3 linked regions of the Homo sapiens genome follow. The protein of the gene in region 3 interacts with the protein of the main gene of each other region in a biochemical or structural test. Each region holds a gene or a part of one and is shown on either strand. Other genes may lie near its edges. The genes, in order: LNX2, MAST1 and NOSTRIN.

The links.
Region 1: the proteins of NOSTRIN (region 3) and LNX2 interact in a test that uses a peptide from one of them, tested with the Homo sapiens proteins (one large-scale study listed by IntAct).
Region 2: the proteins of NOSTRIN (region 3) and MAST1 interact in a test that uses a peptide from one of them, tested with the Homo sapiens proteins (one large-scale study listed by IntAct).

Annotation. Positions count from the first base shown.
Region 1 is NC_000013.11:27,561,446-27,565,106, forward strand, and holds part of LNX2 (ligand of Numb protein X 2), read right to left. Parts: intron 1,337-3,661; coding exon 968-1,336; intron 1-967.
Region 2 is NC_000019.10:12,869,515-12,872,644, forward strand, and holds part of MAST1 (microtubule-associated serine/threonine-protein kinase 1), read left to right. Parts: intron 1-1,309; coding exon 1,310-1,432; intron 1,433-1,521; coding exon 1,522-1,658; intron 1,659-3,130. UniProt on the Homo sapiens protein: Microtubule-associated protein essential for correct brain development. Appears to link the dystrophin/utrophin network with microtubule filaments via the syntrophins. Phosphorylation of DMD or UTRN may modulate their affinities for associated proteins.
Region 3 is NC_000002.12:168,863,665-168,866,014, forward strand, and holds the end of NOSTRIN (nostrin), read left to right. Parts: exon of another isoform or gene 1-1,169; coding exon 1,170-1,306; 3' UTR 1,307-1,721; coding exon of another isoform or gene 1,722-1,732; 3' UTR 1,733-1,850; downstream 1,851-2,350. UniProt on the Homo sapiens protein: Multivalent adapter protein which may decrease NOS3 activity by inducing its translocation away from the plasma membrane.

The sequences.
Region 1 (3,661 bases), on a different chromosome or scaffold from region 3:
ATACCCACAGATATAGGTCCTAATGTTGCCTTTGATTTGAGGAAATTTTAAGGCATCCAATTTCTTTAAACCTCAAGTCTATGAAATTAGACCAATATCAGAATCTCCTCTCAATACAATAAAGAGAGTTGAGACTTGAATTTTCTTATAGTCTTAAATTTTCATTGTTATTTGATTCTGTGTTGTAAACACATTCTTCAATGACTATCGGCCTACCCTACTTCCTGATCCTCAATTACATAATTCTTGGTTTCCTTTACAGTGTTTTGTTTTGCTAACTTTAAGAAAAACATCTTTTTGTTGCACCCTTATCACTGTAGAAGTTGCTCATATCATTAAATGCTATGGCATGTTGCAGAATGTATAGATCTCCTCTGGATGACTTTCCAACTTATCCATCTTCATGCTTTTATGAAAAACATGTTCTTTCTCTAATAATGACTATCCTTACTTATGTCACAAAGATGCTATGAGGACAAATTTTATCATGTATTTTAAACACTGTGAATTCCTTAGAAACAACAACAAAGCACTATAGAGATAAGAGTTATTCTTCCTCTATTTATATAGATCCTGACAGGGAGTTAAGAGACCAGGTAAGTCAGATCCTTGGTAATCACAGCTCTTTTGAGCCTCCCTTTCCTCACTTCTAAAAGGTGGACATATCATCTGCTACATCTGGCTTAATAGTAGAACCCAGGACCCAAATGAGAAATGAATGTGAAACAGTAGAGCCTACGCTCTGTAAATAACCATCCCCAAAATTCACAGGGATATAGTTTTTAGAAAAGACTATCTCCAATGAAGTTATACTAGTGTGGATTTTAAAGAATTCAGGTAGCCACACCCGATTTTCTAATGAAATATAAAATGTCCCCTGAATTCTGATGTTATTGGCCAGTGAAAACAAATACTACTATATGATCATTTCGGCCAAGCCTTTGGAATGAAGGCCAAGAGGGTTTACCTGAATAATCTGGGCAGCAAGCTCCGGAGTTCCATACTTCAGGTCGTGCCCATTGATGGCCAGCACTCGGTCATTGCTGCTTAGCCTGCCGTCCTGGGCAGCCAACCCCCCTTCCAACAGGTCAAGAATAAAAACCCCTGGCTCATCTGTCCTTCGCACCAATTTAATGCCAAGCTGTTCACCAGAGTCCCGTTTATGAAGAGCCACTTGGAAAATCTCTTCTCGTGGAGAGTTACTATCAGAATGGTTGTGTGCTCGGTTGCCAAAGCGCCTCTCTCGAAGCACAGTAAGATGCAGTGTGTTGCAGGGCTGGGAAAGGACAGCTCGGGCATAGTTATGGGACACATTGCTGATATTGTAGTTGTTGACCTAGAAAAAAAGAATTGTGACCGAAGTGTGACAACCTTTTATTTTTCCAATTTGTAGGAATGTTTATGTGACATTTCCACAGGAAACTAAGTATTGTGAGAGTGCTAAGTATGGTGAGAATGCTATACAATCATTATTTACAAAGAAAACCACATTAAAGACATTTAAAAACAGAGTTTCTAATATTAACTTACAGTGACTAGCATCAAGGAGAGAATAGTAGCTAGGATCACGGGCTTTAATGACGGTCTTGAATTAGAGTCCTAGGTACTACCATTTACTAACTGATAACTTAGGCAAATTATAGAACTTGTCTGAATGAGTCTCCTCATCTGTAAAATGTGTTTACTTCATGGGATCAGTATGAGAATGAACAGATTAACATGGGGCAAGTGCTAATGAAATAAATACTAATTCTAGTGGAACAGAAATTTAAGTTTTACTAGATTACAAATTTGCTTCTTCCAAATTAAATACACTTAAGCTAGAGAAAATAAATTGTTATTTTAAGGAAAGTAGCACATTTCAGGTATACAAACTTATTTTAGATAAGTGACTTTTACCTGAAAGAAAACCAGGTTAATTGTAATTTCACTCTAATTCTTCAGCACAGAAATATTAGGTTGGTGCAAAAGTAATTACGGTTTTTACCATTAAAAGTAAAATATAATGTATATCTAATGCATTATTCAATACTCATATAACATTTATGTATTCACCTTTATAATCTCAAAAAAAGTATAGTGACTGATCCTTGGGTATGTAACAGCACTTAGAAAATACACCTAACTTCAATTATTTCTTTAGTTACAAGAGATGAGCATGATTCTTAGCATTTATCACAATTAGAGTTCTTCTCTGAATCGGTCTGAGATGAAACCAACATCCTCTGACCATCTGTTATATGACAGGCTCTGAGTTAGGTGTTTATGATCACCTAAAATTCTTACATCTTTTTCACACAAATCCACATTAGGCAAGACTTTCCTCTTCCTATTGACTTAGGATTGATAGTTGTAAATACTATTTTGAATTTTGTTGATTTTGACCTATTAACACCTTTCAGAATTCAGTCACCAAATGCACAGATGTCACACACAAACTTGCTTTCTCCCAAGTCTGCAACATCTATTAATTTGGTAGTCATCCAAGTCCTTGGTAAAAGTATTGAATAATACAGGGTCAAGAATGGAACTTCTGAAGTTCTATTATATTTAGAAAGCAGCTTCTAAAAATCCACGCAGATATAGATTCATTAGTCAAACCACCATTTCCAACTATTTAGCTACAAAGCTACCTACCTGTAGGTTCACATTTTTCTGTCTTATATTCAGACATATCACACATATCACAAATGACTTTACAAAACGTCTGGCTAAAATCCAGCCATGTGTAAACATGCAGCCTCATAACATCTTTGTGAAGCAGGCTGGGGAATATTCTACAACTGGAAAAAGATTTTTCCTCCAGGAATGCATGGTTGCCAGTGAAATTCAGAGAAAGCAGAAACCAAATAAAATATTGTTTCTAGATTTTGTAAAAATAACATCAGCATAGCAAACTATCTCATTTTTGAGCTAAATGTATTTTTTTATCAATCAACAGCTGTAATTATTTTCCTTCAGAACTGAAAATGCCATTATTGATGACTTCATTAAACTGAAAATACTTATTCTTAATAATGTTCTAAGTTATATTACTTTTATTAATGATATTGAGGTAATTTATAATAGCAGTATTTTTTTTTCTTCAAAACTGCTCAAAGAGGCTGCATATGAAACTCTAAGAGTAGCAAAAAGCTCTAACAGCATATGGTTCTCCTTTTCAAAGAGGCTATTTAATAACATTTGTATATGTAAATAAATATATATAAATGTGGGAAAACCACCAAAGCCACACACTGCTTATGTATATGGTCTGCAAAAATGAAAATGCAAGCTAGCTCTCTGGTCTGCAAATCAACCATCTTACTGCCTCTTCGAGATTTTCAAATTGGCTCACTGTGTTATATTTATTTAGCTTATACAAAGTTGGAGGTAACCAGATAGTAAAAAATACCAATAGGCCTCTTTCCAAGTGTTTACTCTTGAATAACCATAAATAGTCCATATGTGGGAAAGGGGGGTGGCTTTACTTGGCTCCAACACACCAGTTAAAAGCCAACCAGAAGTCAGGGCCTATAATAGGAGAGACCCTTTGTGAATTCATTAATCAGATTATGTGCTCAGACTTTTCTTATCAATTTGAATCATTAAACTAGATGTAAGATTGCCATTATTGGAGTTATTAGTATACAGGTTTCCATAAACAGTAATAATGCAGTGG
Region 2 (3,130 bases), on a different chromosome or scaffold from region 3:
CCTCTGCCTCCTGAGTTCAAGCCATTCTCCTGCCTCAACCTTCTGAGTAGCTGGGACTACAGACAGGCGCGCGCCACCACGCCCAGCTAATTTTTGTATTTTTAGTAGAGACGGGGTTTCACCATGTTGGCTAGGATGGTCTCAATCTCTTGACCTCGTGATTCACCCACCTCGGCCTCTCAAACTGCTGGGATTACAGGCGTGAGCCACGGTGCCTGGCCGAGACTGTTTCTTCATCTGCAAAATGGGGAGAATAGGCCAGGCGCAGTGGCTCAGGCCTGTAATCCCAGCACTTTGGGAGGCTGAGGTGGGCAGATCACTGGAGGTCAGGAGTTTGAGACTAGCCTGGCCAATATGGTGAAACCCTGTCTCTATTAAAAATACAAAAATTGGGCCGAGCGCGGTGGCTGTAATCCCGGCACTTTGGGAGGCCGAGGAGGGTGGATCATGAGGTCAGGAGATCGAGACCATCCTGGCTAACATGGTGAAACCCCCTCTCTACTAAAAATACAAAAAATTAGCTGGGCATGGTGGTGGGCGCCTGTAGTCCCAGCTACTTGGGAGGCTGAGGCAGGAGAATCGCTTGAACCCGGGAGGCGGAGCTTGCAGTGAGCCGAGATTGCGCCACTGCACTTTAGCCTGGGCGACAGAGCAAGACACCATCTCAAAAAAAAAAAAAAAAAAAAAAAAAATGGCCAGGCGCGGTGGCTCACGCCTGTAATCCCGGCACTTTGGGAGGCCGAGGTGGGTGGATCACGAGGTTAGGAGTTTGAGATCAGCCTGACCAACATGGTGAAACCCCATCTCTACTAAAAATACAAAAAAAATTAGCCAGGCGTGGTGGCAGATGCCTGTAATCCCAGCTACTCAGGAGGCTGAGACAGGATAATCGCGTGAACCCGGGAGGCGGAGCTTGCAGTGAGCCGACATCGCGCCACTGCACTCCAGCCTGGGTGACAGAGCGAGAGACTCCGTCTCAAAAAAAAAAAAAAAAAAAATTAGCCGGAGGTAGTGGCGCATGCCTATAATCCCAGCTACTTGGGAGGCTGAGGGAGGAGAATCGCTTGAACCTGGGAGGCGGGTGTTGTTGCAGTGAGCCAGGATTGCGCCACAGCACTCCAGCCTGGGTGACAGAGTGAGACTCCGTCCAAAAAAAAAAAAAAAATGTGGGGGGAGGAATAATAACTATTTCACAAGGTGTTATGAGGATTCTAATGCATGCAGAGCTAAGTGTCCTGCATATAAGTTTAGGAGCTTTCCTTGTTACCAATCCCACTAACCCTGTCCCTATGGGGTGCTCTTTTCCCAGCATGTGGAGGAAGGAGGCCCAGCCCAGGAGGCAGGACTCTGTGCTGGGGACCTCATCACCCACGTGAATGGGGAGCCTGTGCATGGCATGGTGCATCCTGAGGTCGTGGAGCTGATCCTTAAGGTGAGTGCAGGGAAGGAGGCACCCTGGGCGGAGGGTGGGGGAGGCCTGAGCAGCCCCTAGCAGAGCATTTTCCCGCATTCTTCCCCCAGAGTGGCAACAAGGTAGCAGTGACCACAACGCCCTTCGAAAATACCTCTATCCGCATTGGTCCCGCAAGGCGCAGCAGCTACAAGGCTAAAATGGCTCGGAGGAACAAGCGACCCTCCGCCAAGGAGGGCCAGGAGAGGTGGGCACAGCCGTAAACAGCCTGGTCTTTGAGCAGTGGGTGGAACTTAGGCGGGAGGGGCACAGATGAGGATGGAGAAGGGAAGAGCACGGGAAAGGTGGCGGGAACAAATGACCAACAAGCAAAGGGAAGAGGACAATTAAGAGGGGCTGCGGGCTGGGCGCGGTGGCTCACGCCTGTAACCCCAGCACTTTGGGAGGCCGAGGCGGGCAGATCACGAGGTCAGGAGTTTGAGACCAGCCTGGCCAATATGGTGAAACCCCATCTCTACTAAAAATACAAAAATTAGCCTGGCATGGTGGCGCTCGCCTGCAGTCCCAGCTACTTAGGAAGCTGAGGCAGAAGAATCCCTTGAACCCGGGAGGTGGATGTTGCAGTGAGCCAAGATTGTGCCACTGCACTCCAACCTGGGCAACAGAGTGAGACTCCATCTCAAACAAACAAACAAACAAACAAACAAAAAAAGAGGGGCTGGGATGAGTCACACCTGTAATCACAGCACTTTGGGAGGCTGAGGCAGAAGGATCACTTGAGCCCAGGAGTCAAGATTAGGGGCAACATAGAGAGACCCCATCTCTACAAAAAACTTAAAAAACTAGTTGGGTTTGGTGGCACACACCTGTGGTCTCAGCTACTCGGAGGCTGAAGTGGGAGGATTGCTTGAGCCTGGGAGGTCGAGGCTGCAGTGAGCTATGATCTCACCACTGCAGTCCAGCTGTGACAACAGAGCTAGACTCTTTCAAAAAAAAAAAAAAAAAAAAAAAAGAGGGGCTGTAAAAGTGGAAGGAGCCAAGAATGGAAGCTGTGCCAAATTTCTAGGATCAGAGAAAAGCATTGTAGGAGGGTCTTGCACATATAGGCAGGCCCAGGAGATGTGAACTGGAAAGGGAGATGTCCAGAGACGGAGGGGGTCCAGGAGATGGTCCTATCCTGTTAGATGTGTTTAGACAGAACTGGGAAAGGCTAGAATAAGAAATGTCTATCTGGAATGAGCATGCCAGGCAAGGTTCAGCCAACTGAAATCCTATTTTCCCTTATAGATAGGAGGAGCTAGGTGGGAGGTGGGTGGGGCCAGAAGGGTATTCTGTTTGTTTGTTTGTTTTTAGTATTCTGTTTTGATCAGTGAGTTTGGCCCAGACAAGTACAGGGATTTGGGTGAGAGGAGCCAGACGGGGTTGAGATAAGTACATTTCTTCCCACTCTTATAGGTGGGTTGTAGTGGAAGAGGCGGGACTAGAGGCAGGTGGGACCAAGTTGGTTTTGTTTGGATGTGTTTCTAGCCTGGACTGGGAGTGGCCAAAAGGTTGGGCAGGACCTGAAGTGGGAGGAGGGAGGAGCCAAGCAGCACTGAGTTAAGGGAAGTTCTGTCTTGATAGGTGGGTTGTAGTGAAAGACGGAGGGACTAGAGGGGTGGGCAGGACTAGAAGAGGTTGTTTTTGGCCGGGCGAGGTGGTTCACACCTGTAATCCCAG
Region 3 (2,350 bases):
AAGCTGTGAGTGAGTTAAACTTTTGGCCTGTGAAATCAGGGATAATGCAGAGACATTGTCTTGATCTTAAGAAAAGACTGTTGGTGAGACATACTTATAGCAGCCAACACGCCAAACAATCAAAAACACCAGCATGTGAAACCCTCAAAGTACGGACACCAAGAAAGAGTTTGGTGACAATCCATCAGCTACATAGAAATAGAAAGTGAGCCAGGCAGCATAAGGATATATGATCCAACGTGATCTTTTTTTATTTTTTTTTTTGAGGCAGAGTCTTGCTCTGTCACCCAGGCTGCAGTACAGTGGTGTGATCTTAGCTCACTGCAACCTCCGTCTCCTGGATTCAAGTGATTCTCCTGCCTCAGTCTCCCAAGCTCACTGCAACCTCCGTCTCCTGGATTCAAGTGATTCTCCTGCCTCAGTCTCCCAAATAGCTGGGACTACAGGCGTGTGCCACCATGCCTGGCTAATTTTTGTATTTTTAGTAGAGACGGGGTTTCACCATGTTGGCCAGGCTGGTCTCAACCTCTTGACCTCAAGTAATCTGCCTAATCTGCCCATCGCGGCCTCCCAACGTGCTGGGATTACAGCTGTCAGCCACCGTGCCTGGCTGTGATCCTGTTTTTTTTTTTCTGAGACAGAGTCTTGCCCTGTTGCTGTTGCCCAGGCTAGAGTGCAGTGGCATGATCTCAGCTCACTGCAACCTCTGCCTCCCGGGTTCAAGGATTCTCCTGCCTCAGCCTCCTGAGTAGCTGGTATTACAGGCGTGCGCCACCACACCCAGCTAATTTTTGTATTTTTAGCAGAGAAGGGGTTTCACCATGTTGGTCAGGCTGGTCTCGAAACTCCTGACCTTGTGATCCACCCACCTTGGCCTCCCAAAGTGCTGGGATTACAGGCGTCACCCACCACGCCCAGCCAATCCTGTCTTTAAGCAATTATTTTATGATATATCTCAGTTGTTCATTATCTTACTCTTTTTAGTATCCTCTGGATTATGCCTGCTTTATACACAGGTGTTCGATACATTTGGCTTCATCTGAATCAAGTGCAGAAAATGACACTACCAAGTAAATCCTTGAAGCAGAACCTCCTTAAAACTCTTATCAATCGGGCTGAGGCATGTGTTCACATCACAGAGACCCATTTGTCTAACTGTATTTTCACAGGTGACATTGTGATTATACACGAGAAAAAAGAAGGAGGATGGTGGTTTGGATCTTTGAATGGGAAAAAAGGCCATTTTCCTGCCGCTTATGTGGAGGAGTTACCTTCAAATGCTGGCAACACAGCTACAAAGGCATAAAACAAGACTCTGAACATACTACCTTCACACTCGGTAATCAACAATACAGTGTGGTTCAAATAAGAATAAAGTGCTCTTACCTTTACATGTTTTTCTTTTGAAATGGATGGAGTTCTACCTGCATGTCACAGCACTTTGCATTCATGATTATTAGCTTGAAACAGTCAGAAAAAAGATGGATGGGTGGAGACAGACAAGGAAGAGGCTCCTTGGTTCCTAGAGGAGTTTCCAAATTCTAGGAGACCCTAGAGATGATCCAGTATAACCCCTGGTGTCACAGAAACAGACGGAGTCCAAGGTGGGTTCAGCTGCTTGCCTGAAGTCAGAGTTATCTGGTAGACAACAGCAGTGGGACTTAGATGTCTTTTTCCTCTGGATTTGGGTGGCAACAGAACACAGCAGGCCTATGAGGGGGTCAAGCAGAGCCTGGGAGATGAGGAACACAGATCAATTCCAAGAAGAGAGACAGGCAATCAAGACACCAATGAGATCAACCCAAATTAGGGGATGGTAGGATATCTCTGACAAACCCACAGCCAATATCATACTGAATGGACAAAAACTGGAAGCATTCCCTTTGAAAACTGGCACAAGACAGGAATGTCCTCTCACCACTCCTATTCAACATAGTGTTAGAAGTTCTGGCCAGGGCAATCAGGCAGGAGAAGGAAATAAAGGGCATTCAATTAGGAAAAGAGGAAGTCAAATTGTCCCTGTTTGCAGATGACATGATTGTATATCTAGAAAACCCCACTGTCTCAGCCCAAAATCTCCTTAAGCTGATAAGCAACTTCAGCAAAGTCTCAAGATACAAAATCAATGTGCAAACATCACAAGCATTCTTATATACACCAATAACAGACAAACAGAGAGCCAAATCATGAGTGAACTCCCATTCACAATTGCTTCAAAGAGAATAAAATACCTAGGAATCCAACTTACAAGGGATGTGAAGGACCTCTTCAAGGAGAACTACAAACCACTGCTCAATGAAATAAAAGAGGACACAAAGAAATGGAAGAACATTCCATGCTCATGGGTAGG